Regions from separate parts of the Homo sapiens genome. Here region 1 is linked to region 2. Evidence: fine-mapped expression QTL. A gene starts in region 2. The other region holds a variant in brackets. All regions are shown on one strand. Distances are from middle to middle. Region 1 overlaps GREP1 (glycine rich extracellular protein 1). Region 2 holds the start of PAQR4 (progestin and adipoQ receptor family member 4).

Region 1 (5,339 bases), 26 kb after region 2:
AGCGGGGAGCCTGGGGCTGAGATTCTGGGCACAGGCCCAGAGGAAAGGATCCCTCACCCTCTCATCTTCCCCCCAGGCTTTGGAGGGGGTGGAAAACCCCAGAAGCCAGGTGAGCCACTCCCTGTCCCTGTCTCCCTGCCCATTTCCTATGCATCTGCCGCTGCTTCCCTAGAGTCCCTGATCTCCCCATTCTCTTTGGCTCTGTCCCCTGGGATTTGGGAATAGGAATGGGTGGGGAGTCGGGGCCTTCCTGGGAGCTGGAACCCAGGCAGGTAAGGCCCTGGAGTTCTGGGAGCATGGAGGTCTTAGGGGTTGGGGGTTACTGATGTAGGGGCCTGGCCCTGGTCCTGAGCAGAGAGGAAGGGATGGGTGGACTCACAGGAAGTCCTTCCCCTTCTCTTCCCAGGCCTGGGAGGGGGACTAAAGGCTCAGAGAGCAGGCGAGCCCCAATCTCTAGCCTCCCAACTTGGTCTCACACAACAAACCTCATTCGACAAACCAATCCAGGCCTGGAGCAGTGGCTAACACCTGTAATCCCAACAGTTCGGGAGGCAGAGTTAGGTGGATCAATTGAGCCCAGGAGTTCAAGACCAGCCTGGGCAACATTCCCAAGCTGGTCTTGAAATCTTGGGCTCAAGCAATCCATCTACAAAAAAAAAAAACCTAGCCAGTTGTGGTGGCACGTGCCTGTAGTCCCAGCTACTCTGGAGGCTGAGAGGTGAGGATCACTTGAGCCCAGGAAGTCGAGGTAGTAGTGAGTGGAGATCTTGCCACTGTACTCCAGCCTGGGTGACAGAGAGAGATCCTGTTTAAAAAACAGACAGGCCGGGCTCAGTGGCTCACGCCTGTAATCCCAGCACTTTGGGAGGCTGAGGCGGGTGGATCACAAGGTCAGGAGATCAAGACCATCCCGGCTAACACAGTGAAACGCCGTCTCTACTGAAAATACAAAAAAATCAGTCGGGCGTGGTAGTGGGCACCTGTAATCCCAGCTACTCGGGAGGCTGAGGCAGGAGACTGGCGTGAACCCAGGAGGCGGAGCTTGCAGTGAGCCGATCGTGCCACTGCACTCCAGCCTGGGTGACAAAGCAAGACTCCGTCTCAAAAACAAACAAACAAACAAACAACAACCAAAGTAATCCGTGGACCATGCCTGTTCTGAGCCAACCAGGTGCTGGGGACAGGCCCTCCCCAACCAGGGCCACGCTGGGGCATACAGTATGGGCTGAGGCTGCCCCAGAGCTGGGCTCTGGGAGTTCTTAGGAGGCAGTGGAGGCCAGGGAGGAGAGAGTGGCCCAACCCTCTGAGAAACTGAACCAAAAGGAGAGTTTTGAACAAAGAAGGTACAGGCTCCAGCAAGATCTCAGACCTGGCCAGGCGCAGTGGCTCACGCCTGTAATCCCAGCACTTTGGGAGGCCTAGGCGGGCGGATCACTTGAGGTCAGGAGTTCAAAACCAGCCTGGCCAACATGGTGAAACTCCGTCTCTACTAAAAATGCTAAAAATTAGCCAGGCGTGGTGGCGGGCACCTGTAATCCCAGCTCCTCAGGAGACTGAGGCAGGAGAATTGCTTGAACCCGGGAGGCGGAGGTTGCAGTGAACCAAGATCACGCCATTGCTCTCCAGCCTGGGCAACAAGAGCGAGACTCCATCTCAAGAAAATAAAAAAAAGAGCTCAGACCCAAGATGTGGCAGGAGCTGGAGCTTGACAGTTGGAGGCTGCTGAGGAAAGGAACCTGCCTTTCTGGCTCGTTGAAGTTGGGGGTGGGGACACCCCTGCCCGAGGTGGCTGGAGATGGCATCCAGGGCTCCGGAGGGCCTTAACCCTTTCTCTCCTCCACAGGCCCCACCACTCAAAATGGCTATAGACCAGGTAGGGGCGGGGCTGGGGTTTGGGGAGGCCCAGAGCTGGGGCCCCAGGTTCCTCACCTGCTCCCTGTCTCTCCACCAGGCTATGTGGGGGCCGTCAAACCCCAGAAGCCAGGTGAGCCCTGCCCCGGCCTGTCCCTCTGCCTCCCCAAAACCTGAGCTCCCTCCCCTCATTCATACCCCGCCTTGATCTATTCCCCCAGGATTCCAGTACAGAATTGGGCTGGGAGCCCAGCCAGGTGAAGGGGGTACAGTCTGGGGTTCCAGGGTCTGCATCTGGGCGGCCTCTTCCTCCCAGGGGCGGGATTGGTGAATGATGGAGAGGGGTGACGGGGCGTCTCCAAGATCCTTGGCTTCTGGCTTGGCCCTGAAGGGGAACCATAGGCGCTGTGTCCCCAGCTTAGCTCAGCCCTCCCACCCCGACAAGCCCCCCACCTCAGAATGGCCCTGGAGCAGGTCCTGAGGGGGATGGGAGGAGCTGGGGTCCAGATGCTGGGGTTCTGGGGTGGATCTGAGTTGGGGGCTCCTAGGTACCTCATCTGCTCCCCATTTTCCCAAAGGCTTTAGAGGGGACATGAAGGCACAGGAGCCAGGTAAGCCTG[G/A]CTCTCCCGGGCTTCTGTCTCCCCAGTGTTCAGAGCCCCCTTCCCCCTCTCACCCCCACCTCCATCTGTCCCCCAGGATTAGGGAATGGGAATGGGCTGAGTGCTCAGCCAGGTGAGACAGATGGGGTCTGGGGTTCTACCCCTGGGGCGTCCTCTCCCTGCCTCCCTTCCCAGTCTCATGGGGGGCTGAGCTGGTGAATAACTGAAGGGCTGCTGGGAGGAAGCCTCCAGGATTCCCTTACCTCCACCTCAACCAAACCCCAAATCCCCACCCCACCCTCCTCTCCCCATAGTCTTGACAGCCCAGAACCGATTTGGATTTGGAGCAGGTAGGAGCAGGGGTGGGGAGGGGCTGGGGGAGAATGTGGGTGGGGCCCCTGAGTCACTCACCAGCCCCCCTATATCTCCTCCAGGCCTTGGAGGGAATGTGAAGCCTCTGAAGCCAGGTGAGCCCCGCCCGCCCTGGTCTGCCTCTCTATGCACGAACCCCTGAAGCCATAAGCACTCTACTCATGCTCCCTCCCTCTCCAGGATATGGGAAAAGGCTGAGAGCAGGGGCCTTCCCTGGGGCTGGAACCCAGCCAGGTGAGGACACCTGGGGTAGGAGCCCAGGCTTTTTTTTTTTGAGATGGAGTCTTGCTCTGTCGCCCAGGCTGGAGTGCAGTGGCGCAATCTCGGTTCACTGCAACCTCCACCTCCTGGGTTCAAACAATTCTCCTACCTCTGCCTCCCAAGTAGCTGGGATTACAGACACCCACCACCGCACCTGGCTAATTTTTGTATTTTTGGTAGAGACAGGATTTCACCATGTTGCTCAGGCTGGTCTCGAACTCCTGACCTCAGATGATCCACCTGCCTTGGCTTCCCAAAGTGCTGGGATGACAGGCGTGAGCCACCGCACCGGGCTGAGCCCAGGCTTCTTAGAGGGAAGGGGGAAGACAAAGATCGGGCCAGGGGGCCGGGAGGGCAGAGTGTGGGTCTGAATCCTGGGGAATTAAGTGCCACTGGCTGGCCGGATGTGGCTCTGCCTCTGTGTCTCTCTGTAGGCCTGGGAGGGGGAGCCAGGCCCCCTCCCAGGGCCCTGGGCCCCCGCCCTGTCTCTAGGGCTGCGTCCTCCTGACACCCCCTCCGAATGCCGCCGTCTCACACCCTCCCCGTCCCTCCCCCTAGAATATGGCCATGGAAATGGACCGGGAGTCCAGCCAGGTGAGGGCAGCTGGGCCTGGCTCGCGAGGGGTCGGGAGGTGGGACGGGAAGAGAGAAGCTGAGGCCACAGGGACAGAGAGCTGGGGTCTGGGGATCAGCAGCACTGGCTGGAGTTGATGTCAGCCTCTCTGTCTCTCCCAGGCCTAGGAGCGGGGATGAAGCCTCAGATGCCAGGTGAGGGGACTGCCTGTGTCTGTGGCCCCACCTCCCCTAGATCCTGGTGTTCTAGCTGGGTCTGCGTGGGACTCCCAGGGGAGGGGTGACCCCTGCCTCATGAGTGAGGGGAGGTCTGTAGGAGCACCGAGGACCGAGGGGAGAGGAGGTTGGGGAGAGACTGAGAGCCCCCTTCCTGGCCCCTGCCTCCCTGTCCCCCAGTGGCTCAGCCTTACCACGTTCCCTTTTTTGCCCCACAGGCCTGGGAGCTCCAAACGGCTATGGACCAGGAAGGGGCAGGGCTGGGGTTCCAGGAGGTCCAGAGCGGAGGCCTTGGGTCCCTCACTTGCTCCCTTTCTCTTCACCAGGCTATTTGGGGGTTATGAAGGCCCAGAAGCCAGGTGAGCCCTGCCCCGCCTGTCCCTCTGCCTCCCCCAAACCCTGAGCTCCCTCCCTCATTCATACCCCACCTCAGCTCCATCGGCATTCAGGAGGGGGCTGGGAGCCGAGCCAGTGAGGGGGTGTCGGGCTGATGTCCCTGTCTCCCTCCCAGGCCTCCAGAGCAGGTGGACACCAAAATGAGGGAGGAGAGGTGGCGCCAGGATCCCTGGTTTCTGACTTGGCTCTGAAAGGGGATCCAAAGGCCCTTCGCCCTCTCCTTAGCTAGAATCCCAAACCCCCTGCTCACCCCTCCCTCCCCACAGGCCCCTTAGCCCAGAATGGCTACAGAGCAGGTACTGGGGGGCTGGAGTTGCTGGGAGTGCAGAAAGGAGGAAAGAGGTGGGGGCCTGGCTCTCCCCTGACCCTGTACTGAGGGTTTTCTTGGGGGCTCCTGCAGCCTTAGACGGGGTAGAGTCTGGAGAGGAGGCGGCACAAGGGGGAGGGAGGTGCTGGGAGCTCCAGTTCCTAAATTGGGAGGAAAGGGGGGCCAGGCTCCAGCCCCCTTCTGTACCCCAACCTCTCCCCATGCCGCCCCCACAGACCCTGCAGTTCCCACTGGTCATGGACCAGGAAGGGGAGGTTGGCATGGGCACCAGGTGGGGGACAGATGCCAGGTCTGGAAGAGACCCCTCAGTGAGGAGTGGGCATGGGTCCCTCACCTACTCGCATCTCTCCAGGTGCTGGAGAGGGCATGAAACCTCAGAAGCCAGGTAAGCCCTTCCCACTCCTCACTCTCCCTACCTGCAGAAACTGCCTACCCCTCCACCCTTTTCCCCTCCCAAGCTGTACCCTGTCTCCCCATGGTGCAAGAACGGGCTGGAGCTGGAGCCTTCCTGTGGGAAGGAGCCCAGCCAGGTGAGGGAGGTGGGTGGGACCTGGAGCAGAGGGGAAGGAGGACAGGCTCCAACGGACAGAGTTGGGTCTCAGTGGGGGAAGGGGTGGGGTGGGGTGGGCCTGTCCATTATTCTCCATGGGTCTCTGGCCTGGGAGAGAGCCAGAAACCTCCAAAGCCGAGTTGCTCTCTGCCCCTCTTCCTGCCTTCTCCAAGGTCCCCCACTCCAACCCCGC
Region 2 (5,353 bases):
GGTCCAGGTGTGCCTACGCTTCTGCCGCATGAAGGGGTACCAGGTACTGCTCACGGGCCCAGACCAGTGACCCCTGACCTGGACCTAAAGACCACACTCAACTCCCAACACTCGGTTGCCAAACCCAGACACCGGTTTCTGAACCTCCAGCCCGATTCCCACCCCGACCCCAGGCCCCCACCACTTCACCCCTACCCCAGCCCCTGCCCTGGGGTCACCCAGTCTGTGCTCCCAGCTGGCGGGCGTGGAGGCCGGTTACGCCTGCTTCTGTGGCTCTGAAAGCGACCTGGCCCGGGGACGCCTGGCCCCCGCCACCGACTGTGACCAGATCTGTTTCGGCCACCCTGGACAGCTGTGTGGCGGCGATGGGCGGCTGGGCGTCTATGAAGGTGAGGAGTGGGCGGGGACCAGGGGCCTGGGCGGGCCTCGAGGTGGGGCCTGGCCGGGCAGGGGAGCCGCCGTGTCCTGGTCCTCAGGATGCTGACTGCCGGCCCCGCCCGCAGTGTCGGTGGGCTCCTGCCAGGGGAACTGGACAGCGCCTCAGGGCGTCATCTACTCCCCGGACTTCCCGGACGAGTACGGGCCGGACCGGAACTGCAGCTGGGCCCTGGGCCCGCCAGGCGCCGCGCTGGAGCTCACCTTCCGCCTCTTCGAGCTGGCCGACCCGCGCGACCGGCTGGAGCTGCGCGACGCGGCTTCGGGCAGCCTGCTCCGCGCCTTCGATGGCGCCCGCCCACCGCCGTCCGGGCCGCTGCGCCTGGGCACTGCCGCGCTGCTGCTCACCTTCCGAAGCGACGCGCGCGGCCACGCGCAAGGCTTCGCGCTCACCTACCGCGGTGAGCCTCAGCTCGGCGCGCCCTGCCCGCTGTTCCCACCCCGCTCTCCCCACCCCGCCTCACGCCCCTCTCCGCAGGGCTGCAGGACGCCGCTGAGGACCCAGAGGCCCCCGAGGGCTCGGCCCAGACCCCCGCGGCGCCCCTCGACGGGGCCAACGTGAGCTGCAGCCCCAGGCCTGGGGCTCCGCCGGCCGCGATTGGGGGTGAGGCGGGCGCGCGGGACGGGAGTGAGTCAGGGAGCCGCCCCCTCGCGCCCATCCTCACCGCAGCCGTGTGCCCGCAGCCCGGGTCTTCTCGACGGTGACGGCTGTCTCGGTGCTGCTGCTGCTGCTCCTGGGGCTGCTGCGTCCGCTGCGCCGACGGTGCGGGGCGCTGGGGCAGGGCCTGAGGGCGGACCGGTGGTGGGGAGCTGGAGCCCCAGAAGGGAACAGAGCTAGGAAGGAACTCCTGGGTTCTTAAGGGAGCGAGGCTTTGGGTCCACGCACAGGATCGCGCGCGGGATCGCAGGTAGAGCAGGACGCTGCAGCGGGATTGGACCGGCTCGGCTGATGTCTGCTCCCTCTCTAGGAGCTGTCTGCTGGCTCCGGGAAAAGGGCCCCCGGCGCTGGGGGCTTCCAGGGGCCCCAGGAGAAGCTGGGCTGTGTGGTACCAACAGCCCCGAGGGGTGGCCTTGCCCTGCTCCCCCGGGGACCCCCAGGCTGAGGGTTCTGCCGCGGGCTACCGGCCTCTGAGTGCCTCCAGCCAGAGCTCCCTGCGCTCGCTCATCTCCGCTCTCTGACTCTGGGCCCCGAGGGTCCGCTGGGCCCGCCGCCGGCGAGATGGACACCTGAGATGCTGTGCTGCGCCCTGCCTCGGCCTTGCGCCTGTGTAGGGGCAGCTCGGCCTCTGGTCGCCTTGGGGAGACCAAAAGTCGGACAGGAAACATCTGGTGCTATTATCTGGGACTTGGCCTGACCGTGGGGGTCCAGATGGTCCAGGCCCTCTCCATGGACCTGTATGTGGGGGTGGTCTCTGGTTTCGGAGGTCTTTGAACCCCTCTGGGGGTGGTCCTGGACTGCCGTCCTCAGTGAGAGGTCACAGGTCAGCAAAAACAGTCAAAAAACCCCCACAGATTTTGAATAAAGGATCTACTTTGGTACGGGCCTCGAAAGTTCTTCCGTGGTGGGAGGAGCATGTTAATGACCATACAAACGCCGAGGGTTGCGTGTGTCCATGCAAATGAAGGGCGTTGCACGCAGACTTTGGTGGAGCTGCCTGGAATGCAGAGAAGGACCTAGAACACAGACAGATGGGTGGGTGGGTGGAGTCCTGTAGAAGGCGGGGGGTGGAAGGGGAGGAGGATCGTGGGCAGCGTTATGCTGAATAAGGGGTGCCTTCCCGGTCCCTGCTCAGGGTGGACGGGGCGGAGGTCGACTTTGCTCCCCTGGCCTCCAATCTGTTTCCTGTCTATCCTCGGTAGGGCCCCGCAAGGGTGCTCCTTGTGGGCGATAACTGGGAGCAAGTTGGGCCGGGCCCACGCTCCGAGAAGCCTAGCGCGAAGGATAGGGCCTCTCCCGACGGCTGCGGGCGCGTGAGGCACGCCTTCAGAGGCCTGGGTACCGTGGAGCGCCTTGCTGCACTCGGGAGTCCAGCCTGCGGAAAGATCACTTTGGAGCGGGGGCGTACCGGATGTAGGCCGGACCCGTCCGGCAGCACCTTGGACAGAGCCCCGTCTGCAGGGTAGGGCTAGGTGGCAGGACTATGCCCCCGAGGGTGGGTGCCCAAAGGTACGGAGACCTGGGTGTCACGCGGAAAGCCCGGATGCACAGTTCTGAGGGACGCGAGGTGCCAGGGTCACTCTAGCGCAGCCCGCAGGACCCAGAACGTTGGGTCGCAAGCCCACAGCCACCCCATGCAAATGAGGCTGGGAGCGCGCACACTATGCTAGGAGGCGAGGCCTGGGCGGCCTCGGGGCGGAGCCTCCCCGCCGGCCACGCCCATTGGCTCTCGCTGCGCCGACGTCAGGAGCCCGGCGCGCGAAACGCTGGCCGGCCGGCGGGAACTAGGAGCCTGGGCGGAGCCTGGCGTCCCCTCCCGCGTCCGGCCGCGCCCGTCCTCCTGGCTGCAGAGAGACTACCGGCCACCGCCGCCGCCGCCGCCGCGAGCTGTCCCTGCGGCGCGTCTGCCTTGGCGGAGCCGACCGCAGTGCGCTCAGGCGTCCGGTGCGTCCCCAGCCTCCGCCCCGGCGCGGGGGCGACGGACTCGCGCGTGCGCAGCGCCGGAGGGGCGCGGGCTGGGACCCCCTAGCCAGCGCGTGCGCCGATCGAGCGCAGGGCGATGGGTGGGCGCCGGGCGCCGGGCGCCAGGCAGTGATGGGCCTTCCCGCGCTGCGGCCCCACTGAGGAGGAGGCTCGGGGACAGCAGGAGCACGGGCTGCCCGCGCGGTGCGGACCATGGCGTTCCTGGCCGGGCCGCGCCTGCTGGACTGGGCCAGCTCGCCGCCGCACCTGCAGTTCAATAAGTTCGTGCTGACCGGGTACCGGCCCGCCAGCAGCGGCTCGGGCTGCCTGCGCAGCCTCTTCTACCTGCACAACGAACTGGGCAACATCTACACGCACGGTGAGCCGCGTCCCGCAACGCGCTTCCCACACCCCCGGCCGCCCTACCTGCGTTGGGCCGGGGGCACTGAGGCCGAGGAGGGCCCCAGCGCCCAAGTCCAGGGCTGCCCCGGCCCTGGCACCGCCAGTAGCCGCGGTGACAAAGCTGCCATTGTCCCGGGCCGCGCTGCCAGCTTCCGTTTTCCCGGCGGGTGGGGGCCGGGTCAGGAGAGGGGAGCAGAGTAGGGTCTGAGCCTGCTTAATCCCTCTGAGCCCCAGGGGTAGGGAGCATGGTGTCCGGCCTCTGTAATCCCAGCGCCCTGGGAACCCCCTCCCGCCAGCACCCAGCCGGGAGATGGTGTTGACTGCGATGAGGAGGGCCCGGGAGGAGCCTCCCAGCGCCGCCGTCCTGACGCCCCCGCCCCAAGCCGCTCTGTCTTGGGGCTCCGCCTGGTGGCGGCTCCTTCTTCCCCCAACAGGCGTCCGGCCCCTCCTCCGCGCCCCGCGGAGCTCTGCTGACACAGCCCTGCCCGTCCTTGAGCTGCCCCAGGCGGGCAAGGGGCCCTGAGCGGCCTGGCCCAGCCTGGGTGCCTTTCCCGAGCTTTTGCCAGGCCACATTCTCACAAGGGTGGGCAGCCTTCGGAGCCCCGTTTGGCCCCTGGGAGGCCAGTACTAGAGGCCGGCAGGGAGGGGTGGAGACCTCCCAGAAAGGGCTAGGCTGGAATCAAACTCCCCAGGGAGAGGTCTGGGGAGATGGGACAAGCCCCTCGAAGCCCCCTTCCCTTCATTCTGGACTTGTCTTCCCCCACCTGGCCTCACCCCTTTATAGAAGATAAAAAGGCCCAGTGCCTCCATTTGTCTGGACACTTATGGAGAGGGGAGGACTTGGGTTGGGAAGAGCAAGCCAAGTGGCCCCGGGCTGGCATCACTGCTCATGTGTCCTCTTCACAACTCAACTTGAGGTTTCGCTGCCTTAGCCTTCTCCTGTGACCTGCTTGTATGGGGAGAGCAGTGTGGGAGTGGGACGGCCTAGGCCTGTCCTCTGCCATTGCTTACCTGCTGGGCTCACCCGGGGCCGGTCACTCAGCCCCTCCAAGTCTGTTTCCTCACCTGCAAAGTGGGGATCATGGTCTCTACTTCCCAGACCATCCTGAGCCATGATAAGTAACCAGTGCCAAAAGCCTTTTGCCCAGGGCCTGTCTCTGGCCAAGGCCAGGCCGCCAACTGGATGACAGCATTACCTGGACCTGTCTTGCCCTGTCCTGTGTTGTGTCTGAACCGTGGTCCCCTTGAGGATGTGACTGAAACTATCTGGTAGATGACTGTCTCCCTCCCTAGGGCTGGCCCTGCTGGGCTTCCTGGTGCTGGTGCCAATGACCATGCCCTGGGGTCAGCTGGGCAAGGATGGCTGGCTGGGAGGCACACATTGCGTGGCCTGCCTTGCACCCCCTGCAGGCTCCGTGCTCTATCACCTCTTTATGTGCCACCAAGGGGGCAGCGCTGTGTACGCCCGGCTCCTCGCCCTGGACATGTGTGGGGTCTGCCTTGTCAACACCCTTGGTGAGTCAGGGCCCAAGGGATGGGAGCTGGAGCCACCGGCGGGAGAGGCATGGGGCACGCATACAAGCCATGGGTAGGGAAGGGCGGGTGGACCCTCACAATGACATGCCCTCTCCTGTTCTCTCCTCTTGTGCAGGGGCCCTGCCCATCATCCACTGCACCCTGGCCTGCAGGCCCTGGCTGCGCCCGGCTGCCCTGGTGGGCTACACTGTGTTGTCGGGTGTGGCCGGCTGGCGTGCTCTCACCGCCCCCTCCACCAGTGCTCGGCTCCGGGCATTTGGATGGCAGGCTGCTGCCCGCCTACTGGTATTTGGGGCCCGGGGAGTGGGTCTGGGTTCAGGGGCTCCAGGCTCCCTGCCCTGCTACCTGCGCATGGACGCA

Evidence for each region.
Region 1: its variant is fine-mapped to the expression of PAQR4 in whole blood (INTERVAL, PIP above 0.99).

The regions. Positions count from the first base shown.
Region 1 is chr16:2,992,855-2,998,193 of GRCh38, forward strand. It overlaps GREP1 (glycine rich extracellular protein 1), which reads left to right. Exons shown (of 29, transcript NM_001396456.1): 11 at 77-109; 12 at 1,844-1,873; 13 at 1,952-1,984; 14 at 2,073-2,108; 15 at 2,430-2,462; 16 at 2,765-2,800; 17 at 2,885-2,917; 18 at 3,642-3,677; 19 at 3,819-3,851; 20 at 4,199-4,231; 21 at 4,949-4,981. Among named protein-coding and RNA genes, the nearest start is that of GREP1, 7.3 kb to the left of the region's middle. RefSeq lists enhancers at 866-1,367, 2,687-3,659, 5,327-5,339. The variant G/A (reference allele first, on the strand shown) is at 2,472.
Region 2 is chr16:2,966,407-2,971,759 of GRCh38, forward strand. It overlaps PAQR4 (progestin and adipoQ receptor family member 4), which reads left to right and starts at 2,942. Exons shown (of 3, transcript NM_152341.5): 1 at 2,942-3,434; 2 at 4,751-4,972; 3 at 5,109-5,353. The coding sequence starts at 3,269. KREMEN2 (kringle containing transmembrane protein 2) reads left to right here. Exons shown (of 9, transcript NM_172229.3): 4 at 1-43; 5 at 236-389; 6 at 504-836; 7 at 914-1,039; 8 at 1,120-1,198; 9 at 1,404-1,974. The coding sequence ends at 1,614. RefSeq lists enhancers at 1,924-2,913, 2,367-2,446, 5,196-5,353 and silencers at 2,707-3,126, 3,157-3,326, 3,337-3,386, 3,417-3,536, 3,807-3,946.